Regions from separate parts of the Homo sapiens genome. Here all the other regions are linked to region 2. The links come from fine-mapping of genetic effects on gene expression. A gene starts in region 2. Each other region holds a variant in brackets. All regions are shown on one strand. Distances are between the middles of the regions. Region 1 overlaps YEATS2 (YEATS domain containing 2). Region 2 holds the start of YEATS2 (YEATS domain containing 2). Region 3 holds the start of YEATS2-AS1 (YEATS2 antisense RNA 1).

Region 1 (2,760 bases), 25 kb after region 2:
TTTATTTTCTGTGTTAACATATATTATTTCTCATTTACCTCCGGAAGACCCTACATCTCTAGCTGTTAGTGTTAGAAACTTTACATAATTATTCATCATTCTAGTTTTTGTTTGGTTGGTTCAGGCTGTGCTAAGGGGTTGGGATATCATTTTATGGATGTGGGGAGATTTTGAAAGATTTTAAGCATGATCCTGTAATAGATAAGGTTTTGGAGAGATCAGATTTTTGCCTGCTTTTGATGGATTTGATTAAAAATTTATTTGCTTGCTTTCATTTTTTGTAGGGATCAAAGACATGTGATACAATGGTTTTTAATCATCCTGCTATCAAGAAATTTTTGGAATCACCATCTAGGTCATCATCTCCTGCCAATCAGAGAGCAGAAACACCATCAGCCAATCATTCAGAAAGTGATTCTTTATCTCAGCACAATGACTTCTTATCTGACAAAGATAATAACAGCAATATGGATATAGAGGAAAGACTCTCAAACAACATGGAGCAGAGACCAAGCCGAAATACTGGAAGGGTATATAGATGGGTGGATGTGGGAGGGAGCCACAGGAGAAGGGAACTATATTTACTAAAGTATGCGCTTGTTATCTCACTGAACTGTCACAGGAATCTTAGGAAATAGGTTTGTTTTCCTTTTATAATGGGGAAACCAAATCTTTTTTTTTTTTTTTTTTTTTTTTTTTTGAGACAGAGTTTTGCTCTGTTGCCCAGGCTGGAGTGCAGTGGCAGGATCATGGCTCACTGCAACCTCCGCCTCCCGGGTTCACGCCATTCTCCTGCTTCAGCCTCCTGAGTAGCTGAGACCACAGGTGTGTGCCACCACGCCCGGCTAATTTTTTTATATTTTTAGTAGAGACGGGATTTCACCGTGTTAGCCAGGATGGTCTCGATCTCCTGACCTCGTGATCTTCCCGCCTCGGCCTCCCAAAGTGCTGGGATTATAGGCGTGAGCCACTGCGCCCAGCGGGAAACCAAATCTTGATTTGGTTTTACTTGCCCAAAAGTGTCAGAACTGCGAATTAAACCTAAGTGTTTCTTTTTTTTTTCTGAGACGGAGTCTCGCTTTATCACCCAGGCTGGAGTGCAGTGGCGCAATCTCGGCTCATTGCCACCTCTGTCTCCCAGGTTCAAGCTATTTTCCTGTCTCAGCCTCCCAAGTAGCTGGGATTAGAGGCATGTGCTACCACGCCTGGCTAATTTTTTGTATTTTTAGTAGAGACGAGGTTTCACCCTGTTGGCCAGACTGGTCTCGAACTCCTGACTTCATGATCTGCCTGCCT[C/T]GGCCTCTCAAAGTGCTGGGATTACAGGCGTGAGCCACCGCGCCCGACTTAAACCTGAGTGTTTCTAATTTTACAGCCTGGAGATTCTGTGCACAGCACAGCTCCTGGATGCTGTTTACGTAGGTGTGAAAGAAACCTTCTAGCTCGGCAATTCCGTGATCTTGCTCAAGGTCTTTCAACTCTGTCGTGTTTATTCTCTCGAGAGCAGCCGTTCTTCAACGGTTTCCTCTGTGAGACTTTATATTCTAAGATGCTTTAGTACTTTAGTAGATGGAGGAAATTTGACAAATAAACAGAATTGAAAAACATTGCTCTTTGATCATGCCAGTTTGTAATTTGAGCTCCCATCTCAAGCTACTCTGAACTTCTTGAAAAATATTTGGCTATAGAGTCATTATTGGATTAGAGCAGCGATTTTTCTCAGCCAGGTGTTGACTGTGATACAGAAAATTTCCAAGTTACTTTCCACATACTTAGATGTCAAGGGTTTGATTTATTTTTGATAAAAATATGTTTGTATTTATTTTTCAGATTATAAATTCATATGTGTTCATTTTTTGAAAATTGTTAAATACAGAAAAGTAAAAAAGAATAGAAAAGTTCATTCGTGAGGCTGCCACCCCCAAAATCAGAACTCTTCACTGTTTGGATTTACCTTACCTTTCCAGTATTATTCCTGAGCAAATATTACATGTGTTTTTCTTTTTTTTAGTTAAAAAGAATTTAGGAGGCTGGGCGTGGTGGCTCACGCCTGTAATCCCAGCACTTTGGGAGCCCAAGTGGGGGATCACCAGAGGTCAGGAGTTTGAGACCAGCCTGACTAACATGGTGAAACTCCATTTCTACTAAAAATACAAAAATTACCTGGGCTTAGTGGCGGGTACCTGTAATCCCATCTACTCGAGAGGCTGAGGCAGGAGAATCGCTTGAACCCAGGAGGCGGAGATTGCAATGAGCCGAGATCGTGCCATTGCATTCCAGCCTGGTTGACAGAGCGAGATTCTGTCTCAAAAAATAGAATTTAGGGCATAATGGTCATAGAAACTTAACATGTTTTATACAATATGTGATCATTTCTATATGTATTTATATAGCAAACATTTAGCATTTACTATGTACCAGGCACTTATTTCTCATTGAACAGTTTTGAATATTATAAAAGGTTAAAAAGAGGGTAAATTCCATTGACCCCTTTCTCTCTTTCTATTCCTGTTTCCCAGAAGTAACCACTGTAATAGTTTTTTGTGTATCCTTCCAAATCCTATTTGCATATTCAAAGCAGATGTATGTGACTATTAAAAACACACCGGGAGTTACAGTATATAAACTTTGTATAAATTAAGGCAGCATTTATAGTAACTTTTTTAATGCTTTGAGAGGTGCTACAAAGCCAGAAAATTTTGTAATTTTTTAAAAAAACTTAGTTATTCCATTTATACTTTTTACAATTTTGTGGTTTCTGTC
Region 2 (2,760 bases):
CAAATACACCTGGCTAATTTTTGTATTTTTAGTAGAGACGGGGTTTCACCATGTTGGCCAGGTTGGTCTTGAACTCCTGACCTCAGGTGATCCGCCCGCCTCAGCCTCCCAAAGTGCTGGGATTACAGGCATGAGCCACCGTGCCCAGCCAGGAGGATCTCTCGAGCCCGGAAGTGTGAGACTAGCTGTGGTGATAGTGAGACCTGTCTAAAAAAACCAAAATTAGCCTGGGGGTGGTGGTTCACGCCTGTAATCCCAGCACTTTGGGAGGCTGAGGCGGGTGGATCACCTAAGGTCAGGAGTTCGAGAGCAGCCTGGCCAACATGGTGAAACCCTGTCTCTACTAAAAATACAAAAATCAGCCAGGCGTGGTGGCGCGCGCCTTGTAATCCCAGCTACTTGGGAGGCTGAGGCAGGAGAATCGCTTGAACCCGGGAGGCGGAGGCTGCAGTGAGCCAAGATCATGCCACTGCACTCCAGCCTGGCAACAGAGGGAGACTCTATCTCAAAAAAAAAAAAAAACACAAAAAACAAAACACCACTTATATTTATTATGCGTTGATAAAAACATTAAATACATTAAAAATTTGGTAACATGTATGTAAAGTATAAAAAAAAAAGTGAACTTCCTAAACCCACCACTCAGCTCCAGTAGTAAATCGTTATACAGTGAGAAGGGATTGAAGGGGAACAGAAGTTCCCCAAGACCAGTTGGGAGGCTATTCATAGTCTTGGGCAGAGAGATTACAGGGTCTTGGGTAGGGTGGTAGAGTTACAACGAAAGAGAATGTTGGCCTCAAGTGATATTTAGGTGGAAAACTGGACTTGGATTGTCACTAGCTAGTGTGACTGAGATAAGTCTCAAGCCTTCCCTGCCTCAGTTTCTTCATCTGTAAAATGGGCTAGAAATAACTACTGTTATTTTGTATACCCAGCACTTAGCACATGGGTTGGCACAAAGATGGCACACACAAACATCATAGTCACTATTGTGATTAATAGGGAAGCTCATACACGCCGGCAGAATGAATATTCTGTCAAACTTGGGGTTGAAATTCGCCATCTTCTGGGGCAGGAAAGTGATGGACGACTGTGCCTTTGCAAGAATCGACGCCCACACTGCCCAGGAAGTGCCCTCGCGGGCCGGGGTCCCAGCCCGGACCAGCCCCGCCCCGCCCCGCCCCGCCCTCATCCCTGGGAGCTCCGCCCCGAGGCCGCGCGCGCCGCCGCGCGCGCCCCGACGCGCCCAGCTGCTGACGTGCGGGGCGGAACGCGCCGGGCGGGCTCCACCGCGCCGTGTGCTTCCGCAGGTTGCGGGGGTCGCTGGGGCCTTGTGGCGGGGCAGCTCCGCGGGGCTTCGCCCGCTCTCTCACCTCGCCGTGCTCTCTCGCGGCGGCCGGCGGGGCCCGCGCTGCAGCCGGAGACCCGGAGAAAGGGTGAGTGTTGGCGGGCGCAGGAAGGGACCGGCCGGGAGCGCGCCCCGCTCTCCGGGGCATTGTTTGGGCGGGGGCGGCGCGGGCACGTGCGCGCCCCTCCCCCATCGGCAGGCAGCGCGGCAGCGGGACCCGGTGAGGCCCCGGGGCCGAGGGGAGGGCAGGGAGGATCCCAGGTGCGGGCCGGGGAGCCGCAGAAGCGGGAGCCTGGAATTGGAACGTGAGTTGGGGGCTTCCTCTTCAGCGGGGCGCTGCGCTGAGGGGATACGGGACCCCGAGCCACAGCGGCCGGAGCTTTTAGGATGTTAAGCTCTTGGCCTTGGAGGCAAGATTTGGCCCCAGCACCAGAAAGTCGTGGGTTTACCGAAAGGATCCTGGAATGCCCCTCCAACCTGTCGCCATCCCCACCGGGCCTCCCTGGGATGGAGGGGAGGGGTCAGAGAGGCTTTGGGGGTCCAGGGATGGGGCCGGGGCCAACGCGCCGGAGCTGCGGGCAGTGCGGGGCGGAGTGGAAGCCTCGGAAAGTGAGGACTCCTGCAGGAAAGGCTGGCTTGAAGGGCTGTGGCCAGACTGCAGAAGACAATGAGGTTTTCTCCATCATGAATGTGATTATGTTAAGAAATAGAAACCAGAGGAAGAGAAATGCCATCAGCAATCTTACAGGCCTGACACATCATTTTTTTTTAGTTTGATGTTGGCTAGTATTTTCATCTAAGCATTCAGCAGTTACAGAGTTGACCCACGTTTTCCATTCCCTTTTCTCGCTCACATGTAAAAAATGCGGTATAATATTATATAGAATTCAGCAATATCATTTCCCCTTTCTTAATGAGTAGAGGGTATTCAGCGTAGAAAAATTTAAAAATACAAGCAAAGCCAGAGAAAAATGCCCGCAGTTTTACGATCTAGAGATACTACCCTTGGATGTATATTCCTGTTTGTGTATACTCTTTAAAAGATAGGGCAGATGATGCCCTGATAAGGAGTTTAGTTTTTCCCGGGAAGCCTTTGAAGGTTTTGAGAAGGCGAGTAGCATGATCCGACTGCTATGTAGAGGAAGAGGGCTGGGGAGGAACCTACGAGGTCAGTTACTGTGCTCTTTGCAGTAGCTTGGACTAGGCCCGTGGCAGGGAGATGGGGAAGTATAAACAGATTTTTAAATGTTTTAAGGTAGAATGAACAAGACTTGGATTGGTGAGGGAATGGTGGGAATCTTTGCTTTTTTGATTTTTGTTTTGAGCAACTGAGTAGGTGGTGGTGCTGTTTACTGAGATGAAGAATGGAAGAGAGAAATTTGAGGTGGGAAAAACGAATTCTATTTTAGATG
Region 3 (2,760 bases), 110 kb after region 2:
TTTCCTTCTGATTTTTAAATGGACTAAGTTATGTTTCCTCTGAGTCATGTGGTTTCAGGTGCCTCCTAAGACGTATTCTGGGGGTGGTGGTCAGTGTGCTCGTTGCTTTAGGAGGTGGCAGAGACAAAGCCTATGGTTTTCTGTACACGTCACAACAGCAAACAGCCCCAACTGTCCTGACCCTGGCAAGGGGACGAAAATGCCGCAGCCTCCTTCCCCAGCCTGATCCTAGCTCAGCAGTTCCTTTCCTCGTGGATCCTCTCCAAGAATAGGGATACCTCCGTAACAACTGCTTTCCTTAAATACAATGTCTAGGGCTGGGCGCGGTGGCTCATGCCTGTAATCTCAGCACTTTGGGAGGCCGAGGCGGGTGGATCATTTGCAATCAGGAGTTGGAGACCAGCCTGGCCAACATGGTGAAACCCCATCTCTACTAAAAATAAAAAATTAGCTGGGCTTGGTGGCGCTCACCTGGTAATCCCAGCTACTTGGGAGGCTGAGGCAGGAGAATCGCTTGAACCCGGGAGGCGGAGGTTGCACTGAGCCAAGATCGCGCCACTGCGCTCCAGCCTGGGCGCGAGAGTGAGACTCCATCTCAAAATAAATAAATAAATAGAATAATGTCTGATTAATGAAAATCACTCCAATTCATAATTTCTCAGAATCATGGCCTTTATCATTATGGTCTATTATTGAGGCCTTTAATTTTTTCTTAAGGACTTTTTAATCCCTAGTTGCAGTGGTTTCAAACATTTGGGGTAAGGGATGGGGTTAAATGTGTCCCTTCTTGCCAGCAAGCAGATGGCCATTTGAAGAATAACAGCATCTTCCATTGTAGGCTACAGAACAGCTGGTGAATGATATCCTGAGACAGGCTTTGGCAGTTGGATACCAGACAGCTTCTCACAACAGGTATTACTATCTCTGCAGTCTGTGGTGTGAGGCTTACACCTCTTTCCTAACAGTTGAATTGCCCATGAAGGTGTTTTATACTTACATCAATCCAGTAGGAGATGGAGTGAGTGCTTAGGACACTCTTAGAGCCAGATGAGCTCAAGGGTCTGCTTTGTCATTTTTAGAGAACCTCATGGTTGTGAAAGCTCACTCAGCTTTGCTCAGAGGTTTATATCCTCCTCATTACTTCACAGACACCTAGGACTCTGTTTTATTACAGGGTTGAATAAATATTAGCTTTGCAATTAAAGATAACAGTGTCCATTACATGTCAGACACGAGGGCCAAGCGTTGCATATATTACCTAATTTGTTTTTCATTGCAGAACTATTATTCTCTTTTTAAAAATCAGGAAACCGGGCTTTGAAAGGTAATTTTACCCAGCTTACCCAGCAAATACAGTGTAGACCTGGACTTCCGACTCAGGTCTCATTGGCTCTGAGGCCCCTGGGCTCGCCACTGCTCTTTGCTGACTCGTTGTCTTTGATTAAGACACTGAGTTTCAGTCTGTTCCTAGGCCCTGAAAGGATGGTAGATAGGCCACATCTGCTTTTCTTTCGGAGGAAACAAATATTATTTTATTGCATTATGCTAAAGGCTGTCACAGATTTATAAAA[T/C]TGTAGCAAAGTGCCTGAGGACATGAAGGGCCTAAATCAGAGGAATAGTAGATGAAACTTCACAGGAATATATCAGACAACATAGGCGTCTTTAGAGAAAAGGAAGGGGAACCAAGAGTTCCGGTCCTGCTGCCCACTGTCCTGCTTGGACCCACAAGTGAGCCAGGGCCTCCTGTGGCCCCTGCTTACCTCTGTGCTCCCTGTCCTGGAGGGGTAGAGTGACTTAGGTGCTTTTGATGGAACGATTAACATCACGCCTGGCCTGGCGTGGCTCCGTCTCCCGTCTTTCTAGGAGATGGGAAATAAGGTCCCAGAGTTTTGTGGTGCTTTGACTCAGCTTTCGGTCTGCTGAGACTCACTCACAAATGTGTCATTCCGTTCTGCCATCCGCTTTGTTTTCTTTCTCTTTTCTCAGTTCTCAGAATCTTTTTTCCTAATTATTCAACCAACTTGTTGACATCCTTCTCATGCCTATGACAGGAAGGCAGTCCTCACCCCAGAGTGGCCCTAAGCTATGTCTGTGGCTCAGGAGCCCTCTCCACGGGGCCTCTGCCTGGGATGGTCCCTGTGATGAGTTAAGTGAATAAATGATGAGATATACGTGAGAGAATTTCACCTGGTAACACCCTTTGTTTTTTGGACCAGGATTCCCAAAGAAATTACAGTGAGTAATATTCACCAGGCCATTTGCAACATTCCTTTTCTGGACTTCCTCACAAACAAACACATGGGAATATTGAATGAGGACCAGTGAGCGGAGTGAGGTGCCCTGGAGAAGCAGGCTTTGAAGGCACAGCGAAGCTGTAACTGAGGACCCTGCTGCTCGGGAAGGAGGTGGTTTCCAGTGTGACTCGGCATGTCATGGCTACCCAACCTTTGCCGCTGCCTGTTCCCACGTGTCACCAGCACGCTGCACTCCAGATGAAATCCTCCTAGGACAGGAGTTTGTTTCCTGAGTGTGGAGTGAGGCTGTCAGTGGATCCGTGCTTTGTCGGCCAGCGTTTCTGCAGTCTTTGTAAAGGCCCCACGAGAGCGGGCCAGGCCGTGTGCCTCAGGCCCTTCTCCCTGGGTGTGCTTAAGGGGGCTCCTTGGGCCCGCCTCCCCAGGAGGTAGAAAATGAGTGGCAGGCTAGAGATTTCACCCATTTTGTGGGCTGGAGTTACCAGTAGCTCCAGCAGTTACCCTGAAG

What was found. PIP is the estimated chance that this variant, and not a neighbour inherited with it, causes the effect.
Region 1: its variant is the best candidate, but not a certain one, in a credible set for the expression of YEATS2 in whole blood (TOPMed, PIP 0.68).
Region 3: its variant is the best candidate, but not a certain one, in a credible set for the expression of YEATS2 in whole blood (INTERVAL, PIP 0.58).

Annotation. Positions count from the first base shown.
Region 1 is chr3:183,721,607-183,724,366 of GRCh38, forward strand. It overlaps YEATS2 (YEATS domain containing 2), which reads left to right. Exons shown (of 31, transcript NM_018023.5): 5 at 285-530. Among named protein-coding and RNA genes, the nearest start is that of YEATS2, 25 kb to the left of the region's middle. The variant C/T (reference allele first, on the strand shown) is at 1,297.
Region 2 is chr3:183,696,558-183,699,317 of GRCh38, forward strand. YEATS2 (YEATS domain containing 2) reads left to right here and starts at 1,240. Exons shown (of 31, transcript NM_018023.5): 1 at 1,240-1,436. RefSeq lists a silencer at 1,145-1,614.
Region 3 is chr3:183,808,259-183,811,018 of GRCh38, forward strand. It overlaps YEATS2 (YEATS domain containing 2), which reads left to right. Exons shown (of 31, transcript NM_018023.5): 30 at 839-912; 31 at 2,217-2,760. The coding sequence ends at 2,325. It overlaps YEATS2-AS1 (YEATS2 antisense RNA 1), which reads right to left and starts at 2,193. Exons shown (of 3, transcript NR_046727.1): 1 at 1,761-2,193; 2 at 472-594. RefSeq lists an enhancer at 1,376-2,575. The variant T/C (reference allele first, on the strand shown) is at 1,572.